Homo sapiens: one gene and its partners. The protein of the gene in region 3 purifies or fractionates together with the protein of the main gene of each other region. This does not show direct contact. Each region holds a gene or a part of one and is shown on either strand. Other genes may lie near its edges.

Region 1 (3,519 bases), on a different chromosome or scaffold from region 3:
GAGATTTAGAATCACCATCTTCAACAGCCTGCATGGTTTCATTTGAAGTTGACTTGGAAAAATCAGTAGGTGTAACTCCACAAGCTGCTGCTGTAGCTGCTAAGATATCATCTACATTTGATAAAATATTTCTTTCATCACTAAGAAGCACTGCCTCTGGGAAACACATCGATCCAAGAGAAACAAACTGATTCTTTGAATCATGTTGATTTGTTTCACTAAAATGGCCCTTTGTTGTTAGATGTTGTTGTAATGGTTTTGAAGACTCAGAGAGGTCCATTTTCATAACTTCAGAATTTTGAGGATGGAGTTGCTGCTGAGAATGATCACCATTGCTTTGAATAACATGACCTTCCATCTGAAGGAAGGGATGTACTATTTGTTGAGGGCTTTGAACACGCTGTGCTTGTAAAGATGCCTTTACTTGACCTAAACCTGCCTGCAGTATTGACTGCTGAAGAATTTGTAAATCACAGGCAGAATCTAAAAGGACCTGTGTATTAGGAAGAGATGCCTGATGGCCATGCCCTAAAGCATGATTTGGAATTTGAATCTGAGATGAAGCATTAATTATTTGATCGTGCTGTTCCTGGACCTTGGACTCATGCACCTTAAGTATGAGAGGATGTTGCTGCTTTAAGTCTTTAGTATTCAACCTTATTTGTGGAGTCTGTATTAAATTAGTTGAGTTCTTAAGATCAAGGGTAGCTGCATTATTGACTTGGCCAATTTGTTGGTTAAGTTGTGTCACTGAACCAACAACACTTTCTTCTTTTTTTGATGCTTGCAGAGCAACCCCAATAACTTGATCTTCAAGACGGGAATTACTTCTGATTACACTCTGAGAATATCTGTCATCTGCCTTTGACACCTTATAAGTTGATTCTTGAGCATTAATTTCTCCATCAGATAGCCTTTGGGTTGATGACTCAAGAGATGCTTGTGGCTGCAACACCTGTAACTCTTGCATTGGAAAACCATCTTCTTGCTTTGAAGATGGATACACATCTGAGTCAAGCTTTCTTTCAGCATAAGACTTTGGGTCAGGGGAAGTTATGTTATTTTGTAATGTCTGACAATGAGTAGAGGATGCAAAAGATGATGACTGGACAGCAGGCAAAAACTTCTGGGACTGGGGAGATGATGACTCTTGAGTCTGAACATTTTGGGAAGAATGCATAGAAATATAATTCTGGGTCGGGCTAGAGTCTGGCAAATTCTGAGCCCGAGAGGCAGAAGAATAAGAAAGAGAAGGGGCTGTTAATGTTAGGGACTCCCCTGAAGCATAGCTTTCTGAAAGACTAACAACTGACAAAACTTGTGATTGAGATGAATAGCTAACCTGTGTCTGGCTAACTGGTGATAAACCCTGAGAGTGACCAGATGAGTAACTTTGAGACTGACTTACTGAAGACAGATCTCTTGTTTGAGCAGGGTAATTCTCATTTGTAACTGAAGACAATACCTCTTGCTGATTAGATGAATAATTAAGCGTCTGATTTTCAGGAGTTACAGTCTGAGATGACCCAGAAAAAGTCAATGTTTTATACAAGGGTGGCAATTTCTCAACCTTGCTGGACCTATAAACCTGTGAATGAACAATAGATGGCACATTATGTGGCTGTACTAAACCGTAATTTTGGGACTGACTAACTGATAAAAGGCTTGGTAGCTGCGCTGTAGAATAAATTTGTGCTTGGCCCGATATTACAGAACTCTGATTATGTAAAGGTTTGGAATAGCTTAGTGTTTGCACAGGAGGAATTATACTTTGAGGTTTAGGGGTCTTGGTTGATGTCAGTGGTTGTTCTGTAGAACAGCTTTTTATTTTTGTAGTAGAAGGAGGATACCCTGATGATGGAATCGCAGATGAGTAAGACTGAGCAAGTTCCACTGAGACCTGGGAGGTCTTCTGTTGTAATCCTCCGTTGCTCACCTGAGTGGAATCTCCAATTGGGCTACAGGATAAAGATGACTGCCTGGTTGTTTCCTGAAAATTAACTACACTTGAATTTGATAGATAACTATGTAAGGAGTGCTGTGAACCAGTCAGTTGTGCCTGAATTGACTGGGTACCTGAAGGCCGCTGATGGTGTTTAATAACACTACATTCTCGAAGAAGAGCTCTTTCAATGGAAGCAGTAGAACTAGTAAAGAGAGTTGAACTGTAGGCTTGAGGAGTCTGCTGGGATCCCCCAAGTGCTGAAGGCAACAAACTAAATTGAGGTTGTAAAAGATGGGGTGCAGACTCTTGAGCTGAGCGGTATGTTGAAGACTGAGGTGGTATGCTGTTACTTAATACAGAACTGCCCAGGCGCTCAAATGCCAAAGCAGTTGGAACAGTTCCCTGGGAAGTCTTGATTTGTAGCAAAGGGTCATGATGACTTAAAATTCCATTTGATGTAGTGTTAAAAGTTGAATCCTGAAGCACCAAAGGTGAAGTGGTAGCAAAGTTTCTATTGCTGAAGGTGGTGGGATGCTGATAAGCAGAGAGAGATGGTGGAAGTGTTCCAGTGCTTGGCAAAGGTCCAGTAGCAAACAGCTCAGTTGCTGCTGAGGAATGCATGCCTATGAAGAAAAGGCACAAAGATTTTTATGTAATTATGGCACAATTACTTTATGTTTTCATAGTAATGACTTACATAACCCTCAACTCATCAAAATGTCTTAAGACTGAAAAACCTGACCAGTTAGTTCTGCATGTAAATTTTGAAAATTACATTTCAAAATAGCTAGCTTCTTTCTTTCTTTTCTTTTTTTTTTAAGAGACAGGGTCTTACTCTGTTGCCCAGGCTAGAGTGCAGTCTTGCGATCATAGCTCACTGCAGCCGCAGTGTCCCAAGTAGCTGAGACTACAGGCGCATACTCCCAAACCTGGCTAATTTTTAAATTTTTGTAGAGATGGGGTCTTGCAATGTTGCTCAGGCTATCTTGAACTCCTGGGCTCAAGTGATCCTCCTATCTCGGTCTACCAAAGTGATGGGATTATAGGTGCAAGCCACCACGCCTGGATTAGCTAGTTTTCATAGAGTAAAAATGAAGTTACAATGATATCAGCAATTCATATCTGTAATTGTTATATAATTTATATATAGTTTGATAAGGTCATAGGAAAATGAAGAAATCAGTAAAAATGTACATATCTCTAGTGATTAATTTATCCCAAAGTACCAACACAAAATACCAATGGACAAACCAAAATGTACATAACATTAAAATGGAAAAAAAAAAGCTAAATTGCCTACATCTAACATGATAAATAAATATAAAAAAACAGTGAACTGCAGTTTCTTTTACCAAAATATATTCACTTTAAAAATCTCTTGCATTTCAAGCTTTCACTTCCTATGAACAACTTCCCAATCATAATAGATGCATGTTTATCATGAAAAGTTGATCAGAAATTAACAAAGTACTGTCAGAAAGAGACTGTTAACATTTCAGGACAGCATTTTAGCCACATATAGCAAAAGTAAAAATGGGTTTACCCTTGTGATCTGAAAGTTCTATAGAAATTTA
Region 2 (3,519 bases), on a different chromosome or scaffold from region 3:
AGCAGGCGGAGGTTACGGTGAGCCAAGATCGTGCCACTGCACTCCAGCCTGAGCAACAGTGTGAGACTCCATCTCAAAAAAAATAAAATAACTGAACACCTGCTTACTTTGCATGGCACAAGGCTGAGTTCTGGGACTACAGTAATGAACATGACAGATGGTCTTCAAGAATTTTATACAGAAGGTCATGCTATGTAAAGTGTTTAGCACAGTGACTGGCACATAAGCACTCTATAAACACTTTAATACTCACTGATAAAACCACAAAATGTAGTGTTTAATTATATGCTGATTTAGGTTGCTTCCTATGAAACAAACGTTGGTTCATCTAACTCATGCCTTCCTAACAAGCCTTCTTAGAAGCCAGAGGCTCGGCTTCAGAGTCAAACGGAATAGCTTATTAGATGTAAGAACACAGGATTTGGAACCAAATGGTCCTGGCTTCAAAACCCTACTCTGCCACTTTTTAGCTTTGTGACTATGGCAGAGATGGGCAGCTGTCCCCCAAAATCTGTTCTCTCCTTTCCCTACAGTCATAGAATCCCAAGTTTTTCTCAGGACACATGGACCCTCAGGATAAGCATATTTTCCAGCCTTCTTTGCAGCTAAATATGGTCACATGACTAGGTTCTAGCCAATGAGAATGTTAGTGGAAGTGATGTATATAACTTCCAGGAAGTATCCTTACATTAAGAGGTCCTACCCTTCACTAGCCTTTTCTTCCTTCCTGATGGCTGCGGCTAGAAGAGTCATCTTGGACCATGAAGTCATCTTGGGAATAGAGAGCATGCACATGGAGCAAGACAGCAGGAGCTTGGAGCCCTAACACTGTCAGCAATCTATCTTAGGCAAGTGACTCTTTTTTTTTTTTTGAGACAGAGTTTTGCTCATTGCCCAGGCTGGAGTGCAACGGCGCGATCTCGGCTCACTGCAACCTCTGCCTCCTGGGTTCAAGCGATTCTCCTGCCTCAGCCTCCCGAGTAGCTGGGATTACAGGAATGTGCCACCATGCTCGGCTAATTTTTGTATTTTTAGTACAGACGGTGTTTCACCATGTTGGCCAGGCTGGTCTCAAACTCCTGACCTCAAGTGATCCACCCGCCTCAGCCTCCCAAAGTGCTGCGGTTACAAGCATGAGCCACCATGCCCAGCTTAGGCAAGTTACTTAACCTCCCTAAGCTTCAATCTCCCCATCTATAAAAATGTGATAATGCAAGGTATCTATCTTACAGGGTTGTTTTGAAGACTGATTGATATAGTTGGGTCACAGTAAGGGCTAGAGTTAGGAGAGCTGGTATTACTGCCATTATGGAAGTACCAGCAGTCTTGCTGCCATGAAAACCGTAGAAGATGGCAACATCTTAACACAGCCCTGGGTACCTGGAGGTAGCTCAATGATTCTCACAGCTGAAAGGCATCCTAGTAGGCCAAGTCCTCCTGACAAGAATTTCCTTCTCCTGCACCCTTGTCAAATGGTCCCCAGGAAAGGGAAGTGCACTACCTCTGGGACAACTATTAGGACAGTGGTGTTTGTTCATCCATAAATCACAATCCTCATCCCCTTCTTTCAGAACCCTTCTCCTGATTGCTCCAAACCATCTCACTTTTCTCTGCCTCCTCTTTCTCCTCTGCCTTTGATCACTCCAGCCCTGCCTCTGAGGTCACACCCATAGTACTTCAAAGTTTCTTTCAATCCCTTTCAGAAGCCTTTTCTAACTAACTGGGAAGTAAGAGATGGCTTCCTCAGCCTTACCGTATTCAAAGAAGAGACTTCCCAAACTCTACAAATGAACTTCTCTCCCTCTGGAGCAGAACACAAATGATCATTTGCCATCTACAGGTTCTCAGATGTCCCAATCTCCTACATTTTTCATTGCTAACACTTTTAAAGCTATTTAATCTTGTTTGCAACATCAGCACTGGTCTGGGAGGTATATAACTCTTCCTGGCTACACAAAATCAAAATGTGCTGTATGTGTCTAAAGCTTATATTCATCTTTCCTGAGAATTTCCTTCCTGTTCTTACAGACACAAATCCTATGCTCTCTTTCCCACATTGCTGTCATCTTCCCATGTCACTGTCACTCATGCAGGCTGCTCCCAGACAGAGGCACTTTTCCAGTCACCCTTCCCTTCCTACCACTGTACCAGCCTCTATTCTCTCTCTAATCTTCTGCCCCTCTGGCCACATCTATCCTCAAATAGAGACTTTACTACCCTCATGGTTCAACCAGAGCCAGGCTTAAATGGCTTTGTAATTGGAACCAAGGGTTGTGGTGGCAGAGCCATGCACTGCCACCACAACCCTTATTGGGTGAGGCACCTAGGGTTAGGACAGAAGGAAACAACACACAGAGGTCAAGGGGGTAGGTACAAAGACAAAGGGTAGGACAAAGACATAAGCAGGAATCAGTATCCCAACAGACAGAAAAGAGGAATCTGATTCCAATCCCAGACACTGGCAAAGGACAGGTGCAGAAAAGCACAGGTCTGTCATGTTGAGGGAGATGAAAGCGTCTCCGAGATTTACCCTGTATACCCCTCACATACTGTCCAGGGTTTTCTAACTAAAATTGCCATTTCTAGAGGCTGGTACCTGCATCGGTCTCACTTTCAGAGCACTTAGCCTTATCCAACTTTTTTAAACAAAATTTTATTCCAGGCATGTGACCTATATGGGCTTAAAACCTTGGGATTCTTCGCTGTTTTAAATTCATACTACACATTAATTCACATTATGCAGCAAGAATGCTGACACATGAACCAGACCACATCAGAAGACAAGCAGGAAATAAGACCCCAACATGGGTTTTGCTCCCTCCCCAAACGCCTTCTACCTCTCCCAGATTAGTAAAGTAGTAGCCAGGCCTCCTTCCTGCCATACTGAGAGCCATCAGGTGAAGAGAAAGATGAGGTTCCACCAGTGGGGCTCCAAATCAGGCAGAGATCCACATGCATGCCTACAGTTCCAAACCTTCCCACTTCAGCCTGCATCTGGATGTCTGCCACTGTGCCCCTTTAAAGCCACCTTGATGCTCATTTTCCTCCATGGCACCTGTTTACACATGAAGATGAGGGTGGAGGGAAAATGACAGCACCTGCCAGGTGCCAGGGCCCGAGCTCCACTCCACAGAGTGGCCCAGAGAGCGAACAGCAGGGGGACCAGCATGCAGCCTTACATTACTTGAGCAGCCAGAAGAAACAAAAGGCACAAATGTCACATTGCCTTGTTTTCCCATTGATGGTTACTTCTCCTGCCCTGGGCCCCACCCTGCCACTCAGCCCTCTTTCCCGCCTTAGCCACACACCCCACCCCACATCCAAACCTCCCCAAGGGCTTTCCTTGTTTGTGTCCTGTTGAATCCACATGAATCACTAATTGCTGATTTAAACCCAGACACTAAGCGAATGACACATACAGTACAACAAATACAGATCCAATATGAAGAGACTGGCAAATGAAGGGCTCCCTGCCTTCTTGACTCTGCCTGAGCATACAGGTGACATGGAGACACTGCC
Region 3 (3,519 bases):
TAGTTTTGTCTTTAAATCAGCCGTTTTACATTGGAGTCCATTTACTGGGAAAGGAGACCTTGCATCCTTGCCTCCCACCCGTGGGAAGAAGCCCGGCCGACAGGGCTTTGAGACCGGACCCGAGTTTATTCCCAGAGACCCTCCCGCGGGTGGGCGAGCTCCGAGGTCTGGAGAAGAGGAGGCCCCGGCCCGCACCCTCTAGCACCTGTGTCCCCTTCGTCCCGGCCACAGATGCAGGTTCTCCCAAGAGGCGGGTCTGTACCCGCCCCGCGCCCCCAGCCCAGCGGGCCCGGCCTCCGCCCCTGCCCCGCACTCCCACCCCCACCCTCAGGAGAGCGCGGCCCTGCTCCCCACCCCGCGCGGTCTCCCCCCACCGCCTGCGAACCCCCATGCACGCGCGGCCCCGCCCCGCGCACTCACCAGGCCCGGCAGCCGCGCGGTCTTAGCGGCTCACGCGCTCGGGCCCAGGGGCGGGGACGTGGGGACCCGGGCGGCCGCTCAGCCGCGGCCGCGCGGTGAATGAGCCCGTTGTGCGGCCGCCGCGGCCCCAGCGACACCCCGCGCGGGGTCTACAAGGGCTGACGCGCCCCCGCGGCTTCCGTTCCCGGGCTGGGCGGTGGCTCGTCTGCGTCTCCGGCCCTGGGGGTGGGCTGCGCGCTCCATCTCGCCGGCCCAGTCCCCTCCCCAGCGTCGGTCTCTCAAGGCCCCTCCCAATGGGGGCCAGGCGGAGGGTGGGCCCTCGGGCCTGTGGACTGACCCCGGGGTTCCTGGGCCTGGGGGCGGGGATCCCTGTCCCGGGCTCCCCTCGCTGCGAGGCTGGCCCTGCCAGATGACACTCAGAGGCGCCTTGGGTGTCAGGCCAGGGACATCTCTGATGCTGGGGCTCCCCCCGCTAGGGTCAGGGGCTGCCGGGCTATCGCCTTGGGGTTCTGCAGAGAAAACCTGAAGCCCAGCTGGGTCTTCACTTTCCTCCAGGTCACCGTGCCCCGCTACTCCAACTCCGTGGGACTTTGGAATGCACCTTCTGGGCATTTAATTCTTATCCAAGTGCCTCTTAAGTTATACTTCTTTGCTACCAGTGTGTCCTTTGGATGGAGGGGAGGAGAGGTGGTAGGGGCCGGGTGGGGTGGACCCCAGGGACTCCTGCTGCTCCTGCTGGACACCCAGCCCGGGGTACAGGAGCAGGTGGGGACCAGCAGAGGCGGGGCGGAGCAGGAGCCCACACCCAAAGGCTGTAGACTCCTGCCAAGGCTCTGCCTTGATCTTGTACACCATGGGAGGACCAGAAGGGAGGCGTTGAGGTGTCCAGACCTTTGCTGTGGAGCTGGGGGTGCTGTGGCATGGGGAGACTGACAGACGGGGAGCTGTATAGGGCCAGATTCCGGTCCATGGTGGTAACCCCATCCCCCACCACTGCAGATGCGGCACAAAGCCAGCTGCCACAGGAGGTGCACTGCCCCACGGGCAGCTGTGCTCACCTGCGTGGCGTCCGCAGGAAGCCCTCAGACCCTGGCCAGCCTGGTCTCTGCTTCTCACTCCAGGCTCAAGGCTGGCTGCTATTCCATTCACCCCATTCCCTTTCCCTCAGGCCAGAAGCATCACTCACAACTCCAGACCCTTGCACACCAATCTCCTCACTCAGTTCACCCTCAGATGTCCAACTCCACATGGCCAAAACCGAGACCAGTCTCACTCCAAGCTCATCCACCCGCCTAGCTGCCCAAGCTGAAATCCACAGTTGCCCTGTACGACCCCCCGACCCCCCACCTCACCCCCCAGCTCACCTCAAACCTCATCAGTCCCTCTGCTCACAGCCTGCACAGCCACCACCCAGTCTGGGCACCATACCTCTCTGGGCAACCCCCATGGCCCCCAGCCAGTCTTCCAGCTCCCACCCTGACTCCAGTGAGCTGCCAGAGGGATCCTTGAAAAATGCTCTGGAAGCCAAGGTGGGCGGATCACGAGGTCAGGAAATGGAAACCATCCTGGCTAACATGGTGAAACTCCGTCTCTACTAAAAATACAAAAAAATTAGCCGGGCGTGGTGGCGGGCGCCTGTAGTCCCAGCTACTCAGGAGGCTGAGGCAGGAGAATGGTGTGAACCCGGGAGGGGGAGCTTGCAGTGAGCCGAGATCGCGCCACTGCACCCCAGGCTGGGCAACAGAGTGAGACTCTGTCTCAAAAAAAAAAAAAAGAAAAAAGAAAAATGCCCTGGCACTGCTCAGCTCAGAACCTTGAAAGGGATCCTTGTTTCGCTCTGGGTCAGGGTCCCATCCTCAAAGCAGTCACTTCCAGAGCCCCATGGAGCCTCATATCCCATGATATCCACCCTTATTCTGTCTCAGGCCCACCAGCTGCCTCCCTGCTGCCTGATTGTCATGTGTGCATTCCTGTTCCAGAGCCTTTGCACTGGCGATGCCATCTGCTGCCTGGATGTCTTCCTGCTGGCTGGTCCCGTTGCATGGTAGCCTTAGGTGTCTCCTCAGAGAGGTCCCTCGCTGACCATCAGGCTCCTCACTCCCTGTCGTATCCCCTTCACCAAAGATTCCCATTCCCTGACGACGCCTGTCCCCTCGGAATGCAGGCCTCGTGGGAATTCAGCCCATCCGCAAGTGCAGTGGCAGGGCGGCCCCCTTCCCCCTTGACGACGCCTGTCCCCTTGGAATGCAGGCCTCGTGGGAATTCAGCCCATCTGCAAGTGCAGTGGCAGGGCGGCCCCCTTCTCCCTTGAGGACGCCTGTCCCCTCGTAATGCAGGCCTCGTGGGAATTCAGCCCATCTGCAAGTGCAGTGGCAGGGCGGCCCCCTTCTCCCTTGAGGACGCCTGTCCCCTCGTAATGCAGGCCTCGTGGGAATTCAGCCCATCTGCAAGTGCAGTGGCAGGGCGGCCCCCTTCTCCCTTGAGGACGCCTGTCCCCTCGGAATGCAGGCCTCGTGGGAATTCAGCCCCATCTGCAAGTGCAGTGGCAGGGCGGCCCCCTTCTCCCTTGACGACGCCTGTCCCCTCGGAATGCAGGCCTCGTGGGAATTCAGCCCCATCGGCAAGTGCAGTGGCAGGGCGGCCCCCTTCACCCTTGACGACGCCTGTCCCCTCGGAATGCAGGCCTCATGGGAATTCAGCCCATCTGCAAGTGCAGTGGCAGGGTGGCCCCCTTCTCCCTTTCCTGTGCACTCATGTTGCCTCTTGGGGTGTGGGAGGGGAAATGGGGCACTCCTGGGCCTCCAGGAGGTGCAGAGAACCAGGGTGAGGTGTCCACCAGGTCCTGCCTGGCTCCTGACCCCTGGCCCCTGCTGCTCGCGACTGGCCTGCCTCGTGCCACTGAGCCTCAGAGCCATTCCGAACCCCCACCCCAAGTTTTCCATCTCTTGATGGTGTAGGGTTGGGGGGTCTCCATGTACAGATACTCTAGTTCATACCAGGCCTTCATAGGGTTATTTTCCAAGGGGAAGGGCCCCTCGGGAAGCCGGGATCGGAGTCCTGTGTGGCACCTTGCAGGCTCCCACATGCTCCGTTGTGGCC
Region 4 (3,519 bases), on a different chromosome or scaffold from region 3:
TCCCATTGCTACTTAGTGGTAGAGCAGAAACTAGACTCCAGGGATGCTTCATCTCTGTACCAGGCTTCTGCCTATGAGAGACTGTTTCTGGATTCTTAGCCCTGGAACTCCTTAACAAGAATTCCAGGCTCTTGTTACTGAAAATGACCAGCTATTTTCTGAAGAGTCCATGAGAAAATGAGCTTGAATATGTTTAGGTTATTCCTTTGATTCAACACATGCATATTGACAACATAACTTGCTTGGCTCTGTGAAGAACATGCTGACCTGTGAAAATATTCCCACATTCAAGGAAGTCATGACTTGGTAGGGAAGGTACCAAATGTTCAAGTCACTAGAATAAAAAAAGTAGTGTCTGATAAGTAAGAAGTTTGAAGGTGTACACAGTATAGTCTTGAGAACTCAGAGAAGGAATAGGTGATTTCCAGCTGGTACAATCTGGGAAGGGTCAACACCAAATGGGTCTCTTAACCTGGACCTTAGAGGAAGAGTGGGATTTTGGTGGGCAAAAAGATTGGAAATTGAATTCCAGGAAAAGAAGTAACCAGAAAAATGGCATGAAGATGACAAAGGGGTGCTAAGGAAATGGCAAGAAGTCTAGATTGATTGCAACATAGTTTGCCTGTAAGGAAGAAGGATAAGATGGTTATTGAAAGACTACTGAGCAATCACTACTGAATGAGTATGAACAAGTAATTTAACCTTTTTATGCCTCAGTGTCCTTACCTGTAAAATGGGCATGGTAATAATGTATATCTCATACAGTTATAATGAGAAATAAAATAGTTTTAAAAATATAACGATATATAGGCAGGGCATGGTGGCTCACGCCTGTAATCCCAGCACTTTGGGAGGGTGAGGTGTGTGGATCACCTGAGGTCAGGAGTTCAAGACCAGCCTGGCCAACATGGTGAAACCCCCTCTCTATTTAAAAAAAATACAAAAATTGGCTGAGCATGGTGGCAGGTGCCTGTAATCCCAGCTACTCAGGAGGCTGAGGCAGGAGAATCATTTGAACCCAGGAGGTGGAGGTTGCAGTGCCAAAATTGTGCCATTATACTCCAGCCTAGGCAACGGGCAAAACTCCGTCTCAAAAAAATATATATAATGATATATATAAATAAATAAATATATATATAAAATAAAGATGTATATAAAGATATATATGGGCTGGGCGCGGTGGCTCACGCCTGTAATCCCAGCACTTTGGGAGGCTGAGGCAGGTGGATCACGAGGTCAGGAGGTCGAGACTATCCTGGCTAATACGGCGAAACCCTGTCTCTACTAAAAATACAAAAAAATAATTAGCCGGGTGTGGTGGCGGGCGCCTGTAGTCCCAGCTACTTGGGAGGCTGAGGCAGGAGAATGGCTTGAACCTGGGAGGTGGAACTGGCAGTGAGCCGAGATCGCGCCACTGCACTCCAGCCTCGGCGACAGAGTGAGACTCCGTCTCAAAAAAAAAGATATATATGATGCCATGAACAGTGTACTTTATAAATGCCACTCAAGCATAACTTATTGTTATAATTAGTAGTATTTTTATTAGATTATTATTCCCTGCCTAGTATGAACAAGGAAAATAACTAGAAGAGGACTTTGCTATCAGACTAATTATGGACTACAATTGGGGTGCATGTTAGGACAATTTTAATAAGATTTTTCAGCTGTGAGTCTTCAGGTGACTGATTAAGAATTTTTGTTGCCTCTTAAGGGAACTTATCGGTGGCCTCGCCTACACAGCTGTGACAGTTGTGCTATGACATGTGTGTTTCCATTGCATCATAAGCTGATTACAAAACACATGTGATTCCCAAGTGAAAGGTGCGACGAATGAAGATAGTAAACAAGAGAGGAATCACACAAATGGCAATTTGTTAGCAAGTAGACCATGCTTGTGTAAGCCTGCATTTTGGTTCATGTTGGCTGATTTACATTTCATCCTGGATAATTTTTACCTGGTGCTTTGATATAACGTACTGTGGAGATAAATCTTGTGTAAGACAAACTAAATAAACACTTTGAGAACCGAAGACCTAAGTAAAAATTAACATTTGGTATCCACTCACTAATTCGTTTTCTAGATAGCCCCCTTAGCTTCCCTTCATTTAGTATAAGACATTGAATCTAATAACTTTTTATAATTATCCATTAGTTACATTTGCACAATGAGTAGTTATGCATATCAGAAAGGATAGCCTGAATAAAACAATATCATTACTATTGTGGAAGTGACATACCTTTGGTGACCAGATCTCTGGACTGCACTGTTAGCTTCCCTAGTGGATTGTTAATTGTTCTAATTGCCTTAGAACCTTACCAAAAATGGTTTCATTTGACTGTGTAATTTCCAAGGTCTCCATGAACCTTAGGTTTTATTATCCCAAGTACTTCTGTTTAATGTTCCAACATTTATTGTTATATCTGAGAATTTTTAAAGAAGAAAATTTAGCCTGGGCTCGGCGCAGTGGCTCACCCCTGCAATCCTAACAATTTGGGAGGCTGAAGCTGAAGGATCGCTTGAGCCTAGGTGTTTGAGACCAGCCTGGGCAACATAGTGAAACCCTGTCTCTACAAAAAAGAAAAAAAGTTAGCTGGGCATGGTGGTGTCCACTTGTGGTCTCAGATACTTGGGAGGCTGAGATGAGAGGATTCCTTGAGCCCAGGAGGTTGAGGCTGCAGCGAGCCATGATTACACCACTGCACTTTTGCCTGGGTGACAGAGGCCCCGTCTCCACACACACACTCACACAAATTTAGGCTTGAAAAGAATTATCCAAAACCATAAACATCCATCTTTAAAAACAATAACAGTCTATTGTCTAATATGCATGTAGCATATCTGTGTTTTGGTGTGGGTTCAATGATATGGCTATGGATATGCATGACAGCCAAAATTAACTAGTCTTATGATTCACATCCACTCTCATTCATTAATGACCAGTGGTACTTAGGCTTTCCTTATCAATAAATGGAATTTTAAAAATTTAATACTAAGGAGACAATAGTCTTAGGTCAATGTGCTTAGTTTCTGGCCACTATAACTAGAACCATATGCAACATGGAAATTTTAGCTCAGGAGAGGGGGTTAACAGCCACTTTTTAATTTCTGTTGTAAGGATTGATGTGGGATCTCTTTCCCTAGACTTTGGTTCCAAGCTTTTTGGAAATGAGCTGGAGAACATGGAATATAACTCAACTATCCCACTGAAAGGCTTTTCAAGTTTAAGCAAGGAACACCCAGTTGAAACCAGACTGGAATTTAAGGGATTTGGACCAAACCTCTGCAGCACTTATAACCAATTAAAATGTTCATAAGTGTGATTCAAAAAGGGAGAATTTTGACTTTCCAAAAAACTTGAGTTAAGAGTTATTCATTATAAAGGAAAGTTTATAAGTTTTTATAAATCAAGGTTAGAGTCGTACTTAGAAGTTTTATAATACGTATATTTCCAAATACTAGCAAATGCTAGAATATGATTAAACTTATTTAGATATATCCGATTATTATAAAATATAGAT
Region 5 (3,519 bases), about 47 Mb from region 3:
TTTTAAAGTAAATTTTCCAGTTAAGATATATAGTAAAATAAGTGCCAGATGAGTGTTTGGGTTCAGGCTGTCACTGTTAAAACAGAAAAAGTGGCTATACAAAACAGAACAAAAATAAGTATAAGGAAAAGAAGTTTCTGAATCAACCATGATAAGGATCAAACGTCTCTTTATTATTAACGCTGTCAAATGTGTTACTTTTTTTTCCTTCTACAGACCCAAAACAGTATCTATACTTACAAGCTGCCAAAATGTCCCTGATTTTCATAGGTTATATTTTGGAGAAGACTTACTCATATATTTCTAAATTAGTTATTTTGTTTTCAGTCACATAGTTGCTTGGGATTAAGCCTTCATTCCTACAACAAAAGAAAAAGCAAAAATCAAAATGCTTGGCATGTTTGTGGCATTATCATGGCAACAATCCTTTTAAAACCTCAAGGATGTAGGGGGGAAATCAAATTCATTTTACTGATTAAATTGTTAAAAGGAGAAAAAAAAGTTTTTTTATTTCTAACTCAACAAAAATCTCTGTACAAGGAATGTATTAAGATGCCAACTTGTAATGTGAGTAGTTTAAGAGGTTTTATGACCCCACAATCTTTTCAGAGAGAAAAAGGGGCACTTAAATGATCATCTGATATCATAGTGATTATGTTAAAAACACAGCAATTACAAAGACATCGACTTCATTCTTTTCAATTGCTGAGGAGTATTCCATAGCATAGGTATTCTAGTTTAGCTACTTTGCTAGTAGAAGCAACGCTGTAAAGAAATCCTTGAACACGCCTTCTTGTACAGAAGAATATTTCTCAAAGACAGATAGCAAAGACGGGAATTGCTAAGTCACGGGATATGTACATCTTTCAGGATATGCAACAAATTGTCCTCAAAGGAGGATATACCAACTTACACACCTATCAGCATGGTAGAAGTTTCACTTTTCCTATACCTTAACCAACATTTGAAATTACAAAAAGATCTCCAAGACATATTATTGAGAAATAAAAGTAAGTTGCAGAATCATGCAGAAAGTAAGATAAGATTTAGGTAAATGAATTCTACAAACAATACCATATATTTTGATATGTGCATGTAAGTATACTGAAAATAATCTGAAAATGGATAATAGTATTTACTTTTGGGGAGACACTTGGGTTTGGAGGTAGTGGCAAAGCAGAATTTTGACATTAATGTTTGCATATTATATATTTTTAAAAACTCTATTCACTTACTGTGAAATAAAAAATTCAATTTTTAAGTCTGAGGCATGCCAATAGTATACCCGCAGGTGTGGCTAATTACACAGTCCTGAACCTACTAATGCCTCTTTTTCCACTGAAAAGTCTCCACCACATGTTGAGAACTGTTAAGAGAGCCACATCATTGAGAAAATGTAGTTGGAGAGGTATGTAATTTACATGCTTATAATACTTAGATACTTAAAATCTCCAAATCTTGGCAAATATCAGAAATCAATGCCAGCCTTCTCTCTCAGGAAGTCCAGATATTCCTCAGAATTCTTCTCAACTCAGGACTCCAGTCAGGCATTAACCATCTGTTGCAATTGGCACAATGAAACCTATCTGCATCCCAGGGTCTTTTTTCTTTCTAATCTAATTCAGCAGCGACTGCAATGTTTGCTTTCAAAACTAGTCATTCTAGAAACATAAAAGTGAATAAAATACTATTTCTGTTCTTACCTTAGAGCTTAACAGGAAAAAACTGACAAATTCCCAAATGAAAGCACAAATTAGAATAAGAACCTACATTGTCAGAATTATTATTTCCATTGTACAAATAAAGAAACAAAAACTCAGAGACGGTAAGTGACTTGCCCGGGGACACACAATAGTAAGCGGCAGCATCAGGATGTGAAGCCAGGTGTATCTGGTTCTGAGACTCTGCCTGAAATCACTGTTCTCTCATTCTCTCACACATCCTGGGGGAGAGGGGACAGATTCCATTTCATGCAGAGGGAAGAGTTATAAGCCTGAGTCACTAAGTAGTCTTCTTTGTGTTGGAAGAATTGGATACTGACTAAGTCATGTAAGTGTCTTACCCCAAACGGTCTCTTGCCTTCCACCAGTGAGGATTGTATTTCTCCAGTATCAGGTATTCTTCTGCTCTCCTTAAGGCTAAATTACAGGGTTCTCTGGGCAGAAAATCATAAAGTGCCTTGACTTGGATCTTCTCTTCAGCAACCTCAGAGGGTGGGAGGGGAGGCAGTGGCTTTCGTTTTGACGGCTGCACACGGCCCGTGTTGGACTGTGAAAACCAATAAGTGAGTTGTTTTACTATCATTTTAATAATTTGTACTAAAAAATATAGGGACAAAGCATATTTGCCTTCTGCCTCACTTTTCTTATCCAGCTACACCAAGGCAGAAGCCAGGATGAGATAAATGTAGAAAAGGACTAACTATAAAACTCCTTTAGGATCCAGCAATACACTCATCATTTTGTACACTTTTGAGATCACAAGTTCTCTTGACAGCATTTTACTGGATTTTTTTTCATATCAAAATTTTCAAAAGATGATGTACTCCTCTTCAATAGTTTTACCTTGTTTTAAGGATTTTTTTTCTCCTTAAAAGAAGAAAAATGGCCTTTTTCTTTTTATGTGGTGGCAGTTTGTGCTTGGGTTTACCATACTTCCTAAGAATGCTGTTTCTCACTGAAGTGAAAATTAATCTCAGCCTCAAAATGACAGAAGCCAGAATATGTTTTTTCCCACTCATTGCCCATTTTCAAGTTCTGCCTTTAAATATAAGTAGCCTATTTTAACTGGTCTTTTCTTTTTCCTTTTACTTTCTTCTAGAACATTCCTTCACAAATTACTGAGCACTTATTTTATGCCAAGCAGGATACTAGATTCTGGGCAACAAACAGCACCTCATGAATGAAGACTCTAAAAAGACAACCTTCTCCATTCCCCTCTTGCCTGTCAAAATGATACTTACTTGCTTCTTATTTGACAATTGGCTGAGCCACGGCCTGCGACGCTGGGTGTATTTTTCTGGAAGCTCTTCATCTGTGCTCAGGCTTATCTGTGTTCTCATTTGTCTGACATTGAAAAGCAATCATGTTACAAATAATTATTTGTACAAAAGTTATCTATACATCCACTAGATTTTCACAGAAATAGCAGAAAAATCCAGGTCTCTTTCCAACTCCATTTTCATTTAGAAGGCTTCCTAACTCCATCTCCCTGGGCAAATTACTGGTTTTAAGAACTTAAGTTTCCTTCTCCAGGAACTAGAGGTGCTAAGAGCATAGAGTTGTTATAAAATAAAATTGAGAAAACATGTCACATTCCCAGTAGAGTCTGGTGCATCTTCAGGGCATAAAGTTATAATCATTGTAATGAAAACTTACTCCATATCTGGCTCAGTGTTTGTCATTTTATATGCATTACCTCATTTGATGGTGTCTTTTTGTTATAAATAGACATGGTATAGTGATTAGGAACAAGAGTTTGAATCCCAGCTCCACCATTTCATAGTGTGGCCTTGGGTAA

Evidence for each region.
Region 1: the proteins of IDUA (region 3) and QSER1 fractionate together in Homo sapiens (co-fractionation; one large-scale study listed by BioGRID). This does not show direct contact.
Region 2: the proteins of IDUA (region 3) and IGSF3 fractionate together in Homo sapiens (co-fractionation; one large-scale study listed by BioGRID). This does not show direct contact.
Region 4: the proteins of IDUA (region 3) and ROBO2 fractionate together in Homo sapiens (co-fractionation; one large-scale study listed by BioGRID). This does not show direct contact.
Region 5: the proteins of IDUA (region 3) and TXK fractionate together in Homo sapiens (co-fractionation; one large-scale study listed by BioGRID). This does not show direct contact.

What each region holds. Positions count from the first base shown.
Region 1 is NC_000011.10:32,930,792-32,934,310, reverse strand, and holds part of QSER1 (glutamine and serine-rich protein 1), read right to left. Parts: intron 2,569-3,519; coding exon 1-2,568. UniProt on the Homo sapiens protein: Plays an essential role in the protection and maintenance of transcriptional and developmental programs.
Region 2 is NC_000001.11:116,661,218-116,664,736, forward strand, and holds part of IGSF3 (immunoglobulin superfamily member 3 isoform 2 precursor), read right to left. Parts: intron 1-3,519.
Region 3 is NC_000004.12:997,025-1,000,543, forward strand, and holds part of IDUA (alpha-L-iduronidase isoform a precursor), read left to right. Parts: intron 1-1,340; coding exon of another isoform or gene 1,341-1,965; intron 1,966-2,399; coding exon of another isoform or gene 2,400-2,731; exon of another isoform or gene 2,732-3,040; intron 3,041-3,519. Other genes in the region: uncharacterized protein LOC124900646, read left to right, coding at 1,341-1,965, 2,400-2,731.
Region 4 is NC_000003.12:77,046,594-77,050,112, forward strand, and holds part of ROBO2 (roundabout homolog 2 isoform 23 precursor), read left to right. Parts: intron 1-3,519. UniProt on the Homo sapiens protein: Receptor for SLIT2, and probably SLIT1, which are thought to act as molecular guidance cue in cellular migration, including axonal navigation at the ventral midline of the neural tube and projection of axons to different regions during neuronal development.
Region 5 is NC_000004.12:48,110,245-48,113,763, forward strand, and holds part of TXK (tyrosine-protein kinase TXK), read right to left. Parts: exon of another isoform or gene 3,498-3,519; coding exon of another isoform or gene 3,418-3,497; intron 3,066-3,417; coding exon 2,963-3,065; intron 2,269-2,962; coding exon 2,063-2,268; intron 360-2,062; coding exon 294-359; intron 286-293; exon of another isoform or gene 1-285. UniProt on the Homo sapiens protein: Non-receptor tyrosine kinase that plays a redundant role with ITK in regulation of the adaptive immune response. Regulates the development, function and differentiation of conventional T-cells and nonconventional NKT-cells.